2 separate regions of the Homo sapiens genome follow, and region 2 is linked to region 1. A link means that fine-mapping ties the variant in region 1 to the expression of a gene that starts in the linked region. Tissue or cell type: whole blood. Region 1 holds a variant in brackets; the other region holds the start of a gene. All regions are shown on one strand. Distances are from middle to middle. Region 1 overlaps AKAP13 (A-kinase anchoring protein 13). Region 2 holds the start of AKAP13 (A-kinase anchoring protein 13).

The links. PIP is the estimated chance that this variant, and not a neighbour inherited with it, causes the effect.
Region 2: it holds the start of AKAP13, and the variant in region 1 is fine-mapped to the expression of AKAP13 in whole blood (TOPMed, PIP above 0.99).

The regions. Positions count from the first base shown.
Region 1 is chr15:85,540,692-85,551,574 of GRCh38, forward strand. AKAP13 (A-kinase anchoring protein 13) reads left to right here. Exons shown (of 37, transcript NM_007200.5): 5 at 3,081-3,264. Among named protein-coding and RNA genes, the nearest start is that of AKAP13, 170 kb to the left of the region's middle. The variant A/G (reference allele first, on the strand shown) is at 5,255.
Region 2 is chr15:85,374,302-85,385,184 of GRCh38, forward strand. AKAP13 (A-kinase anchoring protein 13) reads left to right here and starts at 6,302. Exons shown (of 37, transcript NM_007200.5): 1 at 6,302-6,497. MIR7706 (microRNA 7706) reads left to right here and starts at 6,295; the gene lies at 6,295-6,361. LOC124903546 (a long non-coding RNA gene) reads right to left here and starts at 10,096. Exons shown (of 3, transcript XR_007064747.1): 1 at 9,906-10,096; 2 at 9,762-9,809; 3 at 9,375-9,434. RefSeq lists silencers at 6,153-6,232, 6,613-7,182, 6,839-7,006.

The sequences.
Region 1 (10,883 bases):
AACACAGACTAAAGGAAACTAAATTCATATATTCGTTTATCCCTTTGCACCTTGGCCTCTTCTACAAACCTAATTCACATGACCCCTGAATCAAATAAAAATGTGTGAGAAATTAATGGGAGAATACCTAAAACTGGGGGTATATGCATGCGGTGGACTACTCAGCAGTAAAAGAGAATGTACTACTGCTACATGCAGCAATGTAGATGAATCTCAAACATGCTCATCGAAGAAGCCTTACACAAGAGTGTATATTCTATAATTTCATCTATATGGAGTTGTAGAACAGGCAAAACTAATGTAGGTGAAAAATTCAGAACAATGGTTAACTCTGAATGAGGAGGAGAGGATTAACTGGAAAGTGGCACAAAAGAACTTTTTTGGATATTGGTAATTTTCTATATGTTGGTACAGATTTGGGTTCACGTGTATATGCATTTGTCAAAATTTATCAAATGGGTATACTATACCATATGTATTTCATTGTATATAAATCACCTAAAATTGTAACTACATATTGAATGCTAGTTAATTATATGCATGCTGAAGTATTTTGGGGTGAAGTGGACTGATATCTTCAAGTTATTTTGAAATGCATAAAAATAAGGTGGATCGATGGGGAAATAGAAGGAAGAATCGTTGGATATATATGTGATAAGGCAAATATAGAAAAACATTAATTGTAGGATCTAGGTTGTTGAGTGAGTGTCTGGCTATTTGCTGTGTGATTCTTTGAACTATGTGTATGTTGGAAAAGTTAATAAAATGTTGGAAGAAAACATAAAAAGGTGCTTTTTAAACCACATTAGTTTAGCTTGCTTGTATGATTGCTTGTTTTTGTATTTGTGGTTTTATTTCCTAGCAAAAAGAAACAGGGTGGAGTAATGGAAAAGGTTTTTTGTTTGTTTGTTTGTTTAATGCAAGACAGAAGAACTTTTGATTTTAAATCCTGATCTGACTGTGGGCAAGCTATTAATTCTATGAATCTGCCTTCATTTGCACAATGAAGATAACCAGACCTCATAGGGTTACTGAGAAGATAGAATGGAAAAAGTTGACATAAACTGCCTAGCCCAGTGCATGGTGCATAGCACTACATTGTTTTCTCCTAATCTGTTATCCTCAGAAAGGGTCTACACAAAAGCAGATGTGGTACCAGTTGCTAAGACTTTCAGAAATTGAGAGAGGATGTAGTGCAGAAGTCAGGGCATCAGCTTCTGAGCAGGCGTGTGGCTGTAGTATTGGGATTTCTACTGAAATGCTGAGCTGACTCAGAACAAATAACAAATCAGAAGAGTGGTTGTGGGAGGGTGGTAAAGAGACAGCTGCTTCAAGGTTGGAAATAACTAGCCTCTAAAGAATCAGGTATTTCCTAGTTAGTGCCTCATTAGCTCTTTGTTCTTGATAAGGATGTCAGAACAACTGTAAGGCAAAAGTTAGATGGTGCTATTTGATCTTTTGTGAGGATTCTATTTGTCCTTTTGTCTGGCCTTGCCATCTGCGCAGAGGTGTTGATTATTAAAATTTGTACCTGCACATGTAGTTGTTGCTTCTGGGGCATAATCTTTCCAGCCATGTGCCTCTGGTTAAACACCCTTTAAATCCTGAATTGGTCTATGCATATACAGTTCTGTAGGGAAAATATACAATATGAAAAATTGTGCTTCCAAGGAAATTTACCTTGGAAATAGGGATACCAGACTAATACACAGATGACATTTGGAAACAGTGTAATTCAGTGTAAAATCACAGCTTCAAAAATCTGTTCATTCCTTTGTGATATTCACGTATAGAAGCATTTGAGGACTTCACAGTAAGGAGAAAACCACTGGGGTCCAAAAAGTCCGAGTGCTTAGTGAAGAAGTTTAGACCCGTGGGAGGCCATGAAGAAAGAGATGATAGCTAAGCTGAGGCAGGCACAACTTCAGGGTGCCATTCCCAGCTCCCTGGAGTTAAGTGTAGTACAGCCTTGTGGGGCTATATGTGGCATCCCTGCAAAGACCTCAGCTCCTGTCATCCTAGGTTGGGCACTGAGGACTGCTGAAGGAAGAGAGTATTGCTAGTGAACCTTGAATGTAATTTGATGTCCAAGAGGACAGTGAAGAGAGCCGGGAAACAGAGAGGAACTGGGATTTAATGAATGTCTACTACAGCCAGTCATAATACTAGCATTTCATCTACCTCTTCTCATTTGTTACACCTCTGTGAGTGAGGTGTTGGTATCTCACTTTAGGGATGAAGAAAGTGAAGTTCAGAGATGTTACATGAATCACGCTTGGTCACACAGATGGTAAATGCCAGATTCGAACCCTGATTTGTCTAACTACAAGCCCTTCCTCATTCTGTCACTTTCAGAGTGACTCACTTTACTAAGAGGGAGCCTTTATTTCAAGTTAAATAAACGTTTTCCTTTCTGCAGTTATTAGTGGATTGTCTTAGAGTTAGTCTTCCTTATTGTGCCAGGAGATGCATTTCTTCCTCTCATTAAACAAATAAATAAAGCTGGCAGTGCCAGAAATTTGATTTGCCCTTATTGTGTAGGAATAAAAAGACCCATGTGTACTGAACAAGCAGAACCTGTTTTTAGTGTTTAACTAGCCAACTCCTGTCTGGGTGTTCTTTTAAAAAGTAATTATACCATTTATGATACACCCATTTAAGTCCCAACAGCTATTCCCTCTTGGACCTCATGTTGTGGGGCTGCATTTGCTTCTGTTATTATTATTTGAGTAAAAGAACGTGTGTATGGGTCGCCTTTATATGCCTGCCTGTGAAATTGGTTGAACAAACACTGTGTATTAAGTCAGAATATAGAAATGTCCTGATTCTCTTTTGCAGGACTGTGTTCGATTGAAGATTTTGCTTCCTATACTTTCTATGCTTTTGTAGCTTTGTTTTGCCTTTACTTGAGGGCTGATTCTACCTGGCCACAATAAAGCTGTTCACACTGTATGTTGTAGCTTAACTTTACAATCTTAGGCACTTGGAGGCAGTGGTGTTTACATAACTTGTCTTTATGTTTGTTTGTTTTTTGTTTTTATATTTTCCTCACTTACGTTCATTTTCTCCCCCATTTACAGATGCTGGCCCGCGAGAGACATTGATGCATTTTGCTGTGCGGCTGGGACTGCTGAGGTTGACGTGGTTCCTGTTGCAGAAGCCAGGTGGCCGCGGAGCTCTCAGTATCCACAACCAGGAAGGGGCGACGCCTGTGAGCTTGGCCTTGGAGCGAGGCTATCACAAGCTGCACCAGCTTCTAACCGAGTAAGTGCTCCTTCTGCCTTATTTCCCTCCTCTCATCCCCAGCCCCACCCCCGATTCATAGGAGTACCACCCACTTGGCATCTCATTGTGTGTTTGCCGCAAATTAAAACCTCAGCTCTGTATCTTGCCTTCTGCTGGAGGTTTGTAAGCTTGCTCCTGCTAACCACTTCATTGTCTGAGAGAGAAACGTAAGTCGTGTTAACCATTTTCTCTCTCGTCTGCCTGCCTGCCTTCTTCAATTCTTATCTCTTATATTTTACTATTTTACTCAAAAGTCAGAATGAGCCTTGTCTGTGGAGGTAGCATAACATTACCAATGTATACAGTTTATCCTGGTTTAGTACAAGAGGAAACAGATTTCCTATATCATATATTTTTTTCTGGTATGTCTTTAAGACTTGAAAGAGTTAATTAGAAACCAGTACTTCCATATTATAATTGCATACAGAAAATATTGTAAACAATTAAGTTTTGGATTGAATGTAATTTCTGTGAATAAAATTTGAGAGCAGTGGTTTCTTCATATGAACAGCAATAAAAAGCAACTGAATTGTCCTGGAAATGTGCAGTAGGAAATCCTGTCTGTTTTTGGGCTCAATTATTATATGTCCTGACTCTTTAAAGAGTTCTCTAGAGGAAGGTTGTTAGTCAAAACATTTGAAGAGCGCTCTTTTATTCTTGTATAAATAAAGAAATAAACACACTAGAGCAGCCAAAAGTTTTTATTGGAATGTTTATATAAAGAAGTTTCAAGAATAGTTTCTGTTGTTTAATACATTTTTATTAGTTTTGTGGTTATCATCATTATCTTTTCCACCACATTATCTGAACAAGTATAAACCCATTGGATCTATGTTCTTTAGCAATTGAGGGACCTGTGCAAATTGAGTCAGTATTAGCAAATTCTCAGATATTTTGCTCATGCCAGATTTAATTTAGTTGTGCTTTATGTTTTACCATTTTTAACTGTGTATATAGTCTGGAAGGACCAAAAAGAGACCTCAGAATGTAGTGCTACTTACGGTTATGTAAACAGCTTTTTCTTGATTCACTTGCCAGGCTTATACCTTTCCCCATCACGCTAGACAGACAGTTCTTTGCAGAAAGCTTTCTGATGGGTGCTACAGATACAGTGGTGGTAGGAGGGGCACTTATCTCAAATGAGCTTTGGATACCTGAGCTCTCCTAAGACAGTATTCCAGGGAGTGATACATTCTACTCCTTCACACTTCCCATCTGGCCAATGATTGGATTCATTCTACGGTTAGCCTCATGGCCTCAGGAAGAGAGGCCTTGTTTCAGAAGTTGAAACAGTTAACTCTGCATAACTATTGTGAAGTTCAAATGCATTTCCTCTAAATTTGATTTTTGCTGGGAAGCAGAGTTGGTTAAGGACTGCCATCCAAATGGGGAAATAAAGTGATTACAACAGCTTCATTATATCCTTGGAGGGGATGTCACAAGACTGTTATTGCAGCACAGCTTTAAGGAAACTAGAGTGTGTTTGTTCTTTGACTTTTTTTTGCTTACTTTAAAAGTACTACTTCTGTTACATGTGGGAAAGCCACTTACCTCCTTTTGAAGGGAGATTGGTAAGGGAAAACCAACCTGAGAAATCACCAATAGAGGACCCTGATAGGAGAGGATGAGCACCTTGCTGCAGATCTAGCTCTTAACTTGAATTCTGGGATGTTACTGTTGTGAAGCTTAGAAAAAGTTCTGAGTCATAATTAGCGATTAAAAAATGGAAAGGGGGCGATTGTCCCAAATCACTCAGTGTGAGAGTGATTCTAGTAGAATTTGGTAGAATTTCAGTTGTTAAAGAATCAAGAATGATCATTTTGTTATTGGTTTTCTTTTCTCCTTTCCTTCCCCTTTCTTTTCCTATATACATAACGTAAAAATGGTTAAAATAGTAAATTTTAGGGACAGCATTCAGTAGCATTCAGTACCATCACAACACTCACAGAGTTACGTAACCATCACCACT[A/G]TTATTTCCAGAACTTTGTCATCACCCAAACTGAACTTCCTTTTCTCCAGCCCCTGATAACCTCTGTTCTCCTTTCTGTCTCTAAGAATTTGCCCATTCTAGGTACCTCATATAAGTGAAATCATGCAACATTTGTCTTTCTGTGTCTGTCTTTTACATAGCTAATGTCCTCAAGGTTCACCCATGTTGTAACGTGTCAGAAAAACAATACGTACTTCAAAATTGCTAAAAAAGAATGTATTTCTCACCACAAAAAAATAAGTAGCTGAGATGATGGATATGTTACTTAGGTTGATTTTATCTTTCTATGGTATATACATAGATTAAAACATCACACTGTACCCCATAAATAAATTTATATAATTGTTGTTACCAAACACACACACACACACACACACACACACACACACACACAGCCAAAAGTGTAAACAACCTAGATGTCCATCACAGATAAATGGACAATGTGGTATATTCATATAACGGAATACTACAGCCTTAAAAAGAAAAGATCATCTTTAACAGATGAAACTGAGATCCAGAGAGACAAAGTGGTTGGATGAAGATAACAAGGTGGTATGACCAGAAATAGAAGCCAAAAGCTGTCCAGAGCTCTTTCCTTCCACTCCTGGGATTCTTAAAAAGTGGCCCAAGAATAGACTTCATGGGGTCTGTATCTCTTGAAATTATAAAGGTTTATGCACATGTTTTTCTGAATAAAGCATTTGTTGGTGAGATTCACGAAGGGGTTTGTAGAAAGTTAAGAATCGCCACAATGTATGATGCTATCTTTCTTTTTTTTTTTTTTTTCTTTTCTTTGAGATGGAGTCTTGCTCTGTAGCCCAGGCTGGAGTGCAGTGGCACGATCTTGTCTCACTGCAGCCTCTGCCTCCCAGGCTCAAGCAATTCTTCTGCCTCAGCCTCCTGAGTAGCTGGGATTACAGGCATGCGCCACCATGTCCGGCTAATTTTTGTATTTTTAGTAGAGACGGGGTTTCACCATGTTGGTCAGGCTGGTCTCGAACTTCTGACCTCGTGATCCACCCACCTCGGCCTCCCAAAGTGCTGGGATTACAGGCGTGAGCCACCGCGCCCAGCCATGATGCTATCTTTCTAATAGTTTGGGTATCTTCTTCCCCACCCTGCTTTTTAAAAATGAAATTGTCCACATATAAGCCGGCCTCTTTTATTGCCTCTTTTCAGTTAGTATGAAATTGAAGTATGGCTATGTATATTTTACATTTATTGAATAACTAGTTGCATTCTACACTTTACTGAAAAGTCAAGCTTATTTAACCCCATTTATAGCCCTTCCCAAGTACATTTGTTGTTTTAATTCCTTGGTGCTTTACCTTGTTTTTTGCTTTTTAATTTTTAAGTGGGGTGTGGGGAGCCTTGTGCTGGTTAGGGCCCAAGTTCTTTTTGTGTTTCTTTGTTCAAGGCTTATTTTGATTGCCAGTCTATTTTGATAAAGCAAGTCTTACTTCTGCGAAAATTATGATTAGCCATTCTTGGACATATAAGGATTCTCTAAGACCTATCCCTTTAGAAAACACTTGAACTTTATTTTAAATCCTACCAGATAGTAATAACTACTCAGGACATTTTTTTTACAGTTTCCCTTTTTTGTAACCCATGATTGTTAACTTTCACTTTGTTCAGTGTTAGGGAAGGCAGAGCTTTTGTTGACTTGCTGTTTCACTTTAGCTTATATTTAGATCTTACATTATGAATATGAATGCATTTGTGATCTGAAAATTCATCTTAAATACATTGTATTTAAGTTTCACTCTAAGTAAATGAAAGAATTCATGTAGGGAGCATAACTCAGTGATTGACATATATGTTATCTCTTATTTCCCTTTCTTTAATTTTCTGTCTTGCCTGAGAAATCTTAGCCCCAGAAGAGTACCCAAAACATGTAGGCCTACTTTTCCTTTAGTTGGACAATCATCTCCTCTGATTTGAAGACCCCACCCATGGTCACCTAACTAGTTAGTAATGGAGAGAATAGGTAAAGACCCCAGTTTGCAGGCTCTTGGTGTCATGAATGCTAGGAAGTGACAATATCAGATGAGCGTGGCATTGTAGTTATCTAAGAAGAAAATATTAGAGCCAGATGTTATTGGATCTGGCTGATCTCTTACTCACACATCTCAAAGTAGAAATCTTGGGACTTGGATCACCCATGTTGGGGGTATGAGGGAGCTTGAGAGTAAGAGGAGGCTCCAGCTAGTGACTAGGTGTGCAAACTTGGAAGTCAAACCTAGGTTTGCATTTTGGCTCTGCCATTTGCAAACTTTCCTTGCTAAGCCTTGATTTCTTCATCTCATAAATAAAGGATATTGCTATTTACTTCCTGGATGATAACCCAGCCTTTAGTGTATGCAATATGAAAAATTAGGGCTTATTTGTCATACAGATTCTGGTTATTTTTGTGGAGCAAATAAAGGTGCATAAATATTTCTTCTTGGAGAAAGATGGTAGTATAGTATGGTAGAACTGCTTACGGATTAAAAGCTTAATAAAAATCTAAGCTTGCCTACTTAGTAGTTAGTGTGACTTGGAAAATGTCACCTATCCACTGAGTCTCATGTTTCCCCTCTCTTAATGATAATACCTGTTCTGCCTACATCACAAGGTTATTTTAACTAAAAAAAGATTGGTGCAAATACTTTGTTAAACTCTAAGATACTCTATTTGAACATTTCTTATATATTAATAATAATAATGACATCAGTAAAATTAGAGTTAACTGATCAATGAAACTCAAATTCCAGTTGATCGGTCTACCAGATATCTTGTTTTGTAATATTTCTTGTAGTTCTCTGTGAATTAAAGTTAGTAGAGAGATTGGAGAATTGTAGTTAGACTGGCTGGTTTTGAATCCAGGGTCTACTTCTGTGAAACTGTATTATTTATCTTGGGTGATTCACTTAACCTCTCCAAACCTCAGTGCCTTTTTTTTTTTTTTTTTTGGTCTCACAAGAAGAAGAAGAGGACTGTCTTCAATGGGTTGCTTTGAGAAATAAACAATTCATGTAGAGAGCATAACTCAGTGATTGACATAAATGTTACCCCCATTTCCCTTTCTTTAATTTTCTTTTCCTTCTAATGCCTATGTCAGTTTTTCATACTTCAGGGAAATTTTACCAGAATCTTGAAGTATTTTAAGCATCATTTGAATGTCCCTACTTGATGTAGGACTTGATGTAGGGACTTGATGTAGGTTGGAAATTATTCCCTAGTGTAATAGATACTACTTTAAATAAAATTAGTTTGGCCCTTTGATACATGCTGTGATGTTGATGCCTGTAGATTAATGGAACAAGGAATTCTAGATGGATAAAAAATCATTTACAGTCCTTCCACCCTTATAAGAAGAGTATTTATTTTAAGAATTTCAACTCTGGAGTGGTGGCATACAAGTGCTGAAATATTTCAGTTGCCATAAGAGCCAGTTTAAACATATTTGTCCTCATAAATGTCATCTTATTTTTAGTATCAGCTGAACAAATCTTCATTTATTGAATGCCTATACTGCACTAGAAACCATGGTTGGTACATTACAGATATTGTTTCATTTCAACCTTATATCAACCTCGTGAAATAGGCATTATCTGTGTTTTGCGGGAGAAATATGGAGGCTCAGATAATTAAAGTAACTAGTCCAAGGCTATATAGAAAATTGTAGAGCTACTGTTACACAGACAGCTGTGGAATGCCAAGGCCCATATTCTTCCCTCTACAAAAATTTGGCAGAGAGAAAGAAGAGACTCAGGACGAGGCTACTAGGGTACAGTATTAAATGACTCTTAAATGTAAAGGGTTATATGGTTTCTAGTCTATATGTTTTTTGAGGAAAACAAGGTTCTTACTATAATAACTGTACATTTATATTACCCATTATATGACTTTTAAAGTATGGTTGATTACATTTAAGCTACCATTTTACATATGGTAAGTATTGTCATCTCTGATTGATTGATTGATTGAGACAGACTATTGCTGTCACCCAGGCTGGAGTGCAGTGGCATGATTCCGGCTCACTGCAGCCTCCACCTCCCAGGTTCAAGTGATTCTCCTGCCTTAGCCTCCCGAGTATCTGGGATTACAGGTGCACGCCACCACGCCCGGCTTATTTTTGAATTTTTAGTAGAGACGGGGTTTCACCGTGTCGGTCAGGCTGGTCTCGATTTCGTGACCTCGTGATCCGCCTGCCTTGGCCTCCCAAAGTGCTGGGATTACAGACGTGAGCCACTGCACCTGGCCATCTCTGTTTTATAATTGAGGAAACTGAGGCCAGAGAGGTAAAGTGACTTGCCCAAGGTCTCGGTTCACAAGGTTGCAAAGTAACAGAACCTAAAGTGCACCGATCTGTCCAGATTGAGGGGACACATGTGAATGTTGAACACAGACCCAGCCTGACAAGCTCTAGGTACTCAGTCATGATTTACTGTAGTGGGCACTATTGGCCCCTCTCAAAGGGTTTGTGCCTGTAAGCTCTCAAGTCCTTCTTACAAGACACTTGCGCTTGAAACCTAGGTGTAGGGTTAGGTGGTGGAGTGACTACTCAAGAATACATATTTCACAATGGAACCAAGTGCTATTGAGCAAGATGTTCTGCCAACATAGTAATTTTGCCCTTTTAGATTCCTCTTCAGGTACTTGACAAGTGGGTCCTCAGTAGCCCATCTGGTGCAAAACAAGTTTGGAGACTTTGCTTTTGCATAGTAAAGCAAAAGATGAAACAAATGTACAGACATACCTTAAAAATAATAACCAGAGAGGCAGGATTTGGGATAACTTGACATCTGGCCAAATTCCCATTCATCAGTCTGTCCATCCCTTTGTATCTGACTTCCTTTGTCATTGTGTGATCTAGGTCTTTGTGTCTTGGTAAAGATAAGGTTGTAGAACTGAGTGGAAACTAGAGAATGGGGGAGGAGACTAACATTTATTGAATATTGAATACCTGCTTTGTATTATGCACAGTACTACCTTGGTGCTTTACTTGCGTTTTCATTTAAAACCCCTCAGCAAACCTCGGGGAGGCTAAAGCAGCTTGTCCAAGGCCGTATAGTTAGTCGCTCTTTTCACAACCTGTCTTTAGGTTGTATTTGGATTTATTCATAGAATTTTGTGAGGAGGCATGTTTGGTAGCATTTTCAGGCTTTTAACCTAATTAATTTATGATGGTTAATAACTCTGGTTCTCAGTGCCTTTTTTTCCCCCTAAGTTTTCAGCTGGACAACTTTAAGCATTTTGACATTTTGTATTTTTTAAACCATTTAACTAGTAATCTCAGGATTGCCTATCTGGCAACATGCTAGAAAATTGCAAAATGTACTTTCTGAAGATAATATTGTACTTATAGAGCAATTTATTGTATTCGTTGCTAGGTATTTTGTGTAAATTCTCATATCTTTATCCTCTCCCCAGCCCTTTGAAGGTGGGCGTTTTATCTCCATTGCACAAGGAAATGTAATAGCCATAGCTGGTAAGTGATGGAGGAATAATTTGAACCAGGTTGTAACTCCAAGTCCTGTGAACTTTTACAAACTCCCTTGGGCTTTCTAAGAAGATGGGTAGGAATTTAAAGTTGGTTGGAATCACAGAGCCATTCCAAGCA
Region 2 (10,883 bases), 170 kb before region 1:
TGGGAGTGATCCCTTTACAGACAAAGAATTTGAGCATCCATGATCCAAACTTAGCTCTGAACTCTTCTTTTTTCTTTTTTCCTTTTGAGACAGAGTCTCACTCTGTAGCCCAGGCTGGAGTGGTGTGATCTCAGCTCATTGCAACCTCCGCCTCCTGGGTTCAAGCAATTCTCCTGCCTCAGCCTCCCGAGTAGCTGCGACTATAGGCGTGTGCCACCACGCCCAGCTAATTGTTTGTATTTTTAGTAGAGATGGGGTTTCACCATGTTAGCCAGGACGGTCTTGATCTCTTGACCTTGTGATCTGCTCGCTTGGGCCTCCCAAAGTGCTGGGATTACAGGCGTGAGCCACTGCGCCCGGCCAGTTCTGACCACTTCTAAACTCCTTCTGTTTCATGCAAGAAGAACTTAAATTAGAGAGGTTAGGCACTCTGATGCCCTGACGACAGGGATGTAAATTATAAATCAGCACAACTGTTTTGGAAGACTGCTTGCAATGAATATGCAGCAAGGTCCCTAAAATGTTAATAGTATCTGACCTGGTAATAATCGTAATGATAAATGCCATTTACTGTGCATTTACCCACAATCCAGCATATAACCTTAAGCCATATCTCTGCTTAGTTTGCGCCTGTAGAATTCCTGAGATGTATTCTCAACAAGGAACTGGTTGCTTAATCAGCTCTCTACTGAGCACCTACTCTGTAGCTAGGCTGACTAGATAGGTTCATAGTTCCAAGTACAGAGGGGAGGAGGAAGAGGAGGTGAGAGAGCCCTAATGAGGGAAATTGTATTCAAGTACTATTCTAACTTGGATTTGGCAACTTTCCCTTAGTTTTCATCTCTTGAACGATAAGCGGTGCCAATCAGTAGCTATGTGACTTGGAGCAAATTACTTAATCTCTGTAAAAGAGATTACTTGTTACTTGTAAAAGGAGGATAATAGTGCCAGCCTAGGGTTGTTGTGATGAATAAATGAGATAATGCAAGTGAAGAGGTATGGTGCAGGAATTTTGGCTTTAGGAACATATTGAGGTTTGGAAGGAATTCCTAGATAGAGGCTCTGTATCAGAAGCAATCAACCTCACCTTTGCTGTCCAGTACACTAGCCATCAGCCACACATGGCTTTTGAGCACTTGAAATGTGACTAGACTGAATTGAAATGTGCTGTAAGTGTAAATACACACTGGATTATTTTGAAGACTTAGCACAATAGATAGAATGTAAAAATACCCCATTAACAAATTTCACCTGCTTCTTTTTTACTTTTTAAATGTGACTACTGGAAAATTCTAAAGCATACATATGGCTCATATATATTGGATAACATTGGGCTTGACATCAGGGAGGCAAGATTCCCTCTGCCCCCAAGAAATAAAAATTCAGCTCTAGACTGCAAAACCTTCTGCCTGGAGGAAGATTTCTCTTAAAGATTCCCTTGTTCTCTTCCATCCTCATCCCCAACTTAAATCCAGCCTCGACATATGGTGGTAAGGTGATCTTTCTATTACAAGATGAAAATCTGCTCTCACTGTTGTTCTATTTCTTCACACATTTTGAGGTTTCCTCTTTGCCTTTCAGAATAAGGGACACACTCCTTACCAGGGCTGCGTACCAGGCCATTCGTGACCTGGCTGCCACTCCCTGCCCTCAGCTTCATCTCCCACCCAGTTTCTTATGTGTGTTGTATTTCTGATACCGCCGTGTCTTTGAATTTGCTCTTCCCTTTTCTAGAAAGGTCATTCTATTATCTGTGCACACACACCCTAGTCTCCTGCACTACCCCACTGTTCTTTATCTGCCTGATTGTCTTCCAAGACCCAGCTTATCTGTCTCATCCTCTTGGATGTCTTTCCTAAACTTTCATCCTTTAACTAGGAGAAATACTCCTCTCTGTTCCCCATAACACCCTCCATTGGCCTCTTTAAAGGCACCTACACATTTGATTTCTTCCTGGTTTGCCTGCCTTCAATTGACTGTGAGTTTCTTAAAGACAGTAACCTCTTCTTCACCTATAACCCCAGGACCATGACTAATGCCTGGAACACAGTAAACTCTCAATAGACATTTGTCAGGGAATTGGCCAGGGATCATCAGCTCATGGGTGGTGTGGCAATTAGAACTCTTCTGGATGCAAGTGACAGAAACCTCCACTGTGCCAGGCTTTATTGGCCTACAGGATTGAAAAGTCTACATTGCCGGATTCAGCAGTTCAACTAGTGTCACTAAGACACTGTTTTTCTTCATCTCTGTTTACTTCCCGTTGTTCCAGTTCCATTCTAAAGGTTCTTTCTTTGTGGTGACAAGATGGCTGACAGGTATATCCTTCCAGATTCCATTTAAGGGAGACAAATATTCCAGTCAAACAAGACCCTAGTTCCAGCAGAGTAGTCTGGAAGTAGTCACCGTTGCCCGTGGATAGGATACATCAGGAGAGTCAGGTCTGGATTCCACGCTGAGGCCATGGAATTGGGGCTGTGGTAGAGCTGGCTTCACACCAAGCAAGGAGCTGAGAGTGGAAGCTCTCAAAGCATGATCAGGACACTATTTCTATCACAAATGCAATACAATGTCCACTGCTGTGAAGGAACACTGGGATATACTTGTTCCAGTGCTTCTATTATCAAAGTGGACAGGTTAGACAGTGTGAGCTTCAAGAGAAATTTATGCTCTTTTAACTGTGTTAATTTTGTTTTTTCTTTGCTTTGGCATTGCCAGGAACTCTCTGTAAAATGGGATTTATTCTTGTTATATTTTTAGGTATTATATAGAACCTGTGTAAATCAGTTGGGAAGATATATAAGTCAATGGAGAGATAGTTCAGAGATACAAAACCCCACCACTGTTTAGTAAGGCATCTTTCCTGGCTTGCGAACTTACTGAGAGTACATGAGGAAATGATTAAACCTGCAACCTCTTTCTGTGAAATATGGCATACTATGTAGAAATATTTGGTACACCTTGGAAGAACAAGTCTTTAGTATCAGGGACACTCAGTTTGAAGGCTCCTTGTAATAGCTTCTTCTGTACAAGTTCACTAATGTGAAATTCATTGAGTCCATACTGTGAACCAGACACTATTAGAGGGGCAGGAGAGAGGGGGTAAACACAGCATACTTCAAGGAGCTTACATTATAGTGGGAGGAGCCAATAAACACACAAGATAAATAAGGTACTTTCAGATTGAGATAAATGCTATGGAAAAAACTGAGTAATACGCAAGAGAGGGACTAGATTAGAGTGGGTCAATTTAGGGAGGGTGGCCAAGGAAGGTTTCTCTGAGGAGGATCATTTGAGCTGAGGCCTGAATGATGAGACGACATCAGCCATGCAGATAACAATTTAGGAATTCCCAAGGAGGACAGAGGGCTCAACCGTTTGGGGAATTTAGGGTAGACTCCTGCCTTCAAAGTTGGGTTTCAGGCTGGGCATGGTGGTTCATGCCTGTAATCCCAGCACTTTGGGAGGCCGAGGCGGGCAGATCGCCTAAGGTCAGGAGTTCAAGGCCAGCCTGGCCAATATGGTGACACTCTGTCTCTACCAAAAATACAAAAACTAGCTGGGTGTGGTGGTGTGAACCTGTAATCCTAGCTACTTGGGGGGCTGAGGCAGGATAATCGCTTGAACCGGGGAGGCGGAGGTTTCAGTGAGCCGAGATCATGACACTGCATTCCAGCCTGGACAATAGAGTGAGACTCTGTCTTAAAAAAAAAAAAAAAAAAAAAAGTCGGGTTTCAAAATAGCTACGTCAGTAGCACCTGGGAGCTTTTTAGAAATGCGGAATCCCAGATGCCACCCCAGACTTACTGAATCAGAATCCACATTTAACAAACACTCCCAGGTGATTTGTAAGCACAGTAAATTCAAGAAGTGCTAGACTCTTAACTTTTCCTGCAGCCCACTGGAAAGGTGTAAATCCTGCTGAGGCGGGGAGCAGGGAACGGTGTTGTCAGTGTCCGTAGAAAGATGACATGGTAACATTTACTGCTGCCTCTGAAACAAACAAGCTAGGTTCTAAGGGGGAAGTTCACTGGGTTATCAAATGTTAGGGTCCAAGTGATTTTCTTGGTTAGCACTCTTGCTTCACAGAAGACTCAGGTTCTTTGAGAAGTGACCGGCTCATGATAGGCTGCTTCTCTCTCTGTGCCAGCCTTTTTTTTTTTTTTTTTGAGATAGGGTCTGGCTCTGTCACCCAGGCTGGGGTACAGTGGCATGATTTGGCTCACTGCAACCTCTGCCTCCTGGGCTCAAGCAATCCTTCCACCTGAGCCTCCCAAGTAGCTAAGATTTGGGCTACCATGCTTGGCTAATTTTTGTATTTGTTAGTACAGATGGCGTTTCAATTGATGCCCAGGCTGGTCTCGAACTCCTGGGCTCGAGCAATCTGCCCTCCTCAGCCTCCCAAAGTGCTGGGATTACAGGTGTGAGCCACCGCGCCAGGCCTTGTGCCAGTTTTTAAAAATCAACAAGGACAGATTAGAGAACAGTGGAAGAGGGTGAGCAGCATGATGAAGTGATACAGAAATAATTTCACATGAAGAACTGGGCATGTTTGGCCTTTCTTTTCTTTTCTTTTTTTTTTTTTAAAGCCATTCGGTGAGGGTTACTTAAGAAAATAGGGCCGGGTGCGGTGGCTCATGCCTGTAATCCCGGCAATTTGGGAGGCCGAGGTGGGTGGAGCACCTGAGGTCAGGAGTTTGAGACCAGCCTGGCCAACATGGTGAAACACTGTCTCTACTAAAAATAAAAAAATTAGCCGGGTGTGGTGGTGGGTACCTGTAATCCCAGCTACTTGGGAGGCTGAGGCAGGAGAATCGCTTGAACCCTGGAGGTGGAGGTTACAGTGAGCTGAGATTGCACCATTGCACTCCAGCCTGGGCAACAAGAGTGAAACTCTGCCTCAAAAAAAAAAAAAAAAAAAAAAAGAAAAAAGAAAAAAAGAGAAAATATATGTGAGCACCAGAGCTCAACATTAGGAGCATTTCTGAGATTTGGAGCTATTCAACAATGGAAGTTCCTGGCACACACATCAGGTATTCACAATACCCTTTCTCAGGTGTTTGGTCACTGCTAGTGAGCCGCCTGGATCAGTGTTTCCCAAATGGCAGTCATTTGCATCTTTGCTTTTCTTTTGGGGGCGGGGGGGTAATATCCTGTACCAGATTTTTGAAAACTGACATTAAAAATACATGTTTAAAATGTGCAAAGTGCACTAAAGTGCACTGGATGTATTTTTTATTCATGTATATACTTTTGTTATCTATCACCCAGGTCAAAATACAGAACCAGCACCCCAGAGGGTTCCCTCCTCCTCCTTCCCAGCCAATAATCTTCTCCTCCTACCTAACCGCTGTTCTTACTTCAATCACTATCAACTAGTTTTACACGTTCTTCAACTGCATATAAATTGTCTCAGTTTTTTACTTAACACTTTTCTTGAAGTGCTTTCGTTTTTTGCCACTTTTTATTTGACCTAAGAAATAACATTAATGAAACAGTGGTTTGACGTGATAGGCATTTCCCTCCTAATGCGCACTAAAAACACTTAACTATTTGAAAAAAGAAGTTTCTTCGTGTACCAACTAATATATTCTCCGCCCTGTCTCCAGAAACCGCCCTTCCTCTGTGGGCCGGTGGTTACCGGCACCATTGGTACACGGACCACATTTTGTTTCCCAAAGCAACCAGATGATTTTTGAGGTCCTTTGCAGCTCGAACACGGAATGACTTTGTGGTGATCGAGTAGCCAGAAGTTCACGGAATGCACTGTCACAATTGTGATTCCGCCATAGCGCCGTGCATCCATCCAACACTTGTTTAATACCTATATTTAATACCTAATACCTTAGACGGTCCTAGGCTGTGGACACAGAAGACTAAACCCCACTTCCTGAGTTGAAGTGGGGGAAATAGAGGAGTAAATCATTTCACGATGTGTGGTTAAGTGCTGCAGCTCAGGTAACCACCAGTACACAGAGGAAGGGCGGTTTCTGGAGACAGGGCGGAGAGGAGACCGTGGGTGGGCATTTCCCAGAGCAGCCTCTGCCAGCCACCCTACTTTGATCACTTTGCCGCCGAGCAGCAGCGGCGGTCAACCTCAGCCTCCCTTAGCAACCTGAGTGCCCCGTCCAGGAGCCTTACTATTGGTCTCATGCAGCGAGATGGGCAGTTCTGCCGTGCAATCCCAGCTCGCAGTTCTTGCTCCGCGTGTACTCACGGGAGGACTCGCAGGCGTTACCGCCTTCCCGCGTGCCCCGCCCACCCTCCCGAGCGTCTTTCGGCGCATGCGCGGACTGGAGCTGTGTGCAGGGCCAGCGCGGAGCCCGAGCAGCCGCGGTGAAGCGCCTGTGCTCTGCCGAGACTGCCGTGCCCATTGCTCGCCTCGGTCGCCGCCGCTTTAGCCGCCTCCGGGGGAGCGGCCGCCTATTGTCTTTCTCCGCGGCGAAGGTGAAGAGTTGTCCCAGCTCGGCCCGCGGGGGAGCCCCGGGAGCCGCACGGTGAGAGCGCAACTTAGTTGGCGGAGTTGGGGGAAGTTTTGTGATTTGTGGGTCGGGGCGCGGAGCGCGGCCAGTCCCCTGCGGTTGCTCGGTGGGGCGGGCCCCGGAGGAGGGGCGGGGGCTGCGGGGGTTTCGGGGGCGGGCTGGACAGACGGGTCGCCGGGCGGCGCCGGGACCTCAGGTCTGCGGACCCCTCCTCCCTGCGCATCGCCCTTCTCCCGCATTGTCTGCTTGGGGCTCGGCGCGCCTCCCACTCCGCAGCCCAACTTAGAGGCCGTCGCCGCTTTCCGGGTGGGGGGCGCGCCCGGCCGCCGATGCTACCTCAGGCGCTCCGCCCCCAGCGAGGCCCCGAATCCTTGCCCCGGGTCCCCGGGTCGGCGCCGCCGGGGCGGGCTCACTCCTCCCCTGGGGCGGGCGGCCGCGGTGTGGAGTCCCCGCCGTGGAGTCCGCGCCGTGAACAAGTGCTGCGGGCGCGAGGGAGCGGCTCCCCGGGGTCGACGCGGACGGTAAACACGTCGGGCCGCGCCTGCCTGTCGGTGCCTCTCCGCGGCTTCTCGGGGGTGCGGCCCAGCTGACCCGCGCGGGTCGCAGGCGAGCGGCCCAGGAGACCCGTGCGGTCCCCACGCGCTCTGGGACCCGTGCAGCCAGCCGGCTCAGCTTGCAGCTATACTTTGATACCAAACAAAACTTTTTTTTTTTTTTTTGGTAAATACGGTTTACTGCTTTTTTTTTTTTTTTTTTTTTGCAAAGCCACGAAGTATGTGAAGTTGAAAAAAGGAAAAACCCTAAAACTTTTTAAAAAAAAATCAAGAAAGGGGGTAGATAGGTTTGTTTTGTTTTGGAAATAGTTCTTATAGCAGAGTGATACCGTCCCATTTAATTTTCTAGATCCCGGAATTCACAATGAAAATTGGATTGAGCGGTATTTTGGTGTTCATTCTTTGCTAATGACACTCCTTAATGAAGTTATTTGGAGAGTTTATTGCTTCAGTACAGTAAAAACCAGTGTGCCTTTTTTTTTGTTAGTAGTCCCCCCCACAACAAGTGTTTTATTTTTAGAAGAAGCATTTTCTTCAGTTTTTCTGAACTGTTGGATTGCGCAGATGAGGACAAACGGTGCAGTTCTTGAAAGGTCATTATTGGCAAGTTTGTGAAGAAGCTAAGATCAGTTGAGATAAATCATTGTTACTATTCTTGTATTCTGTCGTGGACTCTTGGGGATTTGCAGGCTGCATTAAGTACAAGTTTTGTCAAGTTTGGGTGCACATATTACACTTAATTTGGTTTGTGTGGCTTATTATATGAACATGATTCTGTTTCAGTTCCCCAGATGGAACTAGCTTAAATGTCTGTCATTCATAGTGGAGCAAAATGGCCAGAGTGTCATTTATTGTTAACTTCAGTTGTATTCCTTTACCATCTGCTAAATGAAAAAGAAAAATTTGAGAAATACTGTGTGTGTCAGTTTGCTCAGAGTGATTTCTCGTGCTAAGTGAGTCCTGTGGAGAAGCGTTCCTGGGCTTTTCTGGTTTGGTGGGCCTTGTGTTATAAAACCAATTTTCTTCACCTGATGAAGCTAAAGACAAATTTTCTTCAGGTACAGCCATTGCACTTTTAAATTACAGAGCCGCTTTTAGGATTCACAGTACTCGCTCCATGGCTTCCCTTCCTGGTTGTGTGGTTTTGTGTGTGTGATTGTGGGGAAGGAGGTTGACAGAGGTTGGAAGGGATTGTCAGGGAGGGACATAATGTAAGCAAGTACTACTTACAACATGACGTGACGAGTGCACTAGTTGCTTTCCTTCTCTGGGCGGTGATGGCATGTTATACTGTAGGTACTATTGTTTTAGGATTTCTCACACTTCTTTTGCCTTGACTAAATGGTAACTGCACACATACTATACTATAAATGGACTCCTCCTCTAGTCCTTTAACTCCTTGAGGGCTGTGATAGACCTTATTTAGCTTTTTACCCTCTTTGCCGGTAGTCTTAACATAGTGCAGGCACGGTACGTGTTTGAATTGGGTAAATTATTTTTACTGCCTAGTGGTAGCTAGCGTACACAGGAGAGAGCCACTAACTGGGGACCTGTCCAGAATGACAGTTCACTTGCAGATCTGTGATGACATTTACTTTAAAAGGATTTCTAACCTTTTTTTAATCTGTCAATTATTTTTTGAAAAGAAGTGGGTTTAACTAGCGCTCTAAGGATTTCAACAAGAGGTTCCAATTTAGAAATCAGCCCCCCCCTTTTTGTGAAATTATTATTGTTTTTTTTTAGAGTCGGAATCTTCACTGTTGCCCAGTTGTCTCTAACTCCTGGACCCAAGCCATCCTCCCACCTCAGCCTCCCACAGTGTTGGAATTACAGACGTGAGCCACTCCACCCAGCCAGTGAAATTATTAAAATTGTTGGACAAATCTAGTCACAACTCTCCCTCCATTGTGAAATTGGAAAAAAATTAGAAATTTTAGAAAAAAGTACACCCTTTGGAACTAGGTAGCGTTCAGATCTCCACACTTCCATTGACTAGTTGCATAGCCTCTCAGAGCTTCAGTTTCCTACTCCATAAGCGTTAGTAACAGTGTTCTTAGGAATCAGTGAAACTATGTGAGGTACTTAACTACAGTATCTAACATGGAGTAGGCAGCTATTACCTAGTAGCTGTAATGATAATAATTTTGGTACATTTTTACATGACTTAAGCATTCTTAAAAGTCTGATGCTTCTGAGTGTAGAGGTTTAGCTATTTCTTTCATAAAGAAGGGGCCTTGAGACTTGTGAGTCTTATCGAAGTCTATTTCTTCAAAGGTGCCAGATGAACTGAAGGATAATGGAAACAATAGCGAGTTTATCTTCTCAGTCACCTGTGAGTCTTCCTTTGAGAGTGGGACTTGCAGAGTGGCTTGGTAGGGTAGAGCTCTTTGTGACTATGCTATTTGGGCAACAGTGAGAGATGGATTGTTTTCAGTACATCAGTCATAAGAGGATATGAGTTCCAACTTTATTTTACCTTAGTCTTGGCAAATAAGTGTGGATTGTGTCTGTATTTCTCAAACTTGTTTAAGGTAGAGCTGGACTGGGTGTTAACAGTGTTAGTTCAGTACAGAGACATGAGCAAATCACTCACTTCCTCTTCAAGATAACACTTTAAAGGTGACACCATTTACAGAAGAAGGCAGTGATTTAAATCAGTTATACTAGCATAGTTTAGAATACTTACACTACCTAGATGGAGTAGATACATTCTAGAAATATTTACCTGTTAAGGACATTTCTTTAGATTTTATTCCATCTTTCCATTAGTTTTCTGATGAAGAGATTATAGTAAACCTTTAAAAATTATATTTGATCAAACTTACAGATTGAGGATAAACCTTTAAAAATTACAGTTGGTCACACTTACAGATTGAGGGTAAAAACATTCCTGACAAAGCTAGGCGAAGAAAGTTGGACTTTTGATGTTCCCTTCTTTTAAAGTTAACATCTGGCACTTGAATAGACTTGGTTATTACTGATGGGGACAGGCATCCATTTGGAAGTAGCTTCCCTCTCTCTTTCCCAGGTTAGGCTGTCTTACTGCTGTAAATGGGGAGAGACGAGAAAGCTGTGGGTGGAAGAAAGTTTGTTTCATAGCCTGGCGCAGTGGCTCACGCCTGTAATCCCAGCACTTTGGGAGGCTGAGGCGGGCGGATCACTTGAGGTCAGGAGTTCAAGACCAGCCTGGCCAACATGGTGAAACCACATCTCTACTAAAAATACAAAAACTAGCCCGGCAGGGTGGCAGGTGCCTGTAATCCCAGCTACTTGGGAGGCTGAGGCAGGAGAATCGCTTGAACCCGGGAGGTGGAGGTTGCAATGAGCCGAGATCATGCCACTGTGCTCCAGTCTGGGCGACAGAGCGAGACTCCGTCTGAAAAAAAAAAAAAAAAAGGTTTGTTTCATGCATCTGTCCTCACTGGTCAGTGGAAGAAAGTTTGTTTCCTGCGTTTGTCCTCATATTTATAGTTTTCTCGTCCACCTACAAGTTGATTGTGACGTTATGAATAGAAGATGAATGGATAATGTGTTTTTGTCAGACCTTGCTGTAAGGATGGACCTGGTACTGAAATACCGTGATTGTATGAACATTTGTGTGGGGCAATGCTGTGTTCAGTGCCTGGGGAATGTGGATATCAGTGTGTTTGTATGATATGGGTGCTAGTATGGGAGAGAAGGAAAACGTGTGAGGTTTTTGACCATTTATGTCACTCTGTAAGCTCTTCTCTGGCTACTTTGGTGCTATAGTAGCAGAGTTGAGTAGTTACAACAGAGACCATGTGATCTGCAAAGCAGAAAATATTTACTATCTGGGCTTTTACAGAAGTTTGCTGACCCTTTTTCT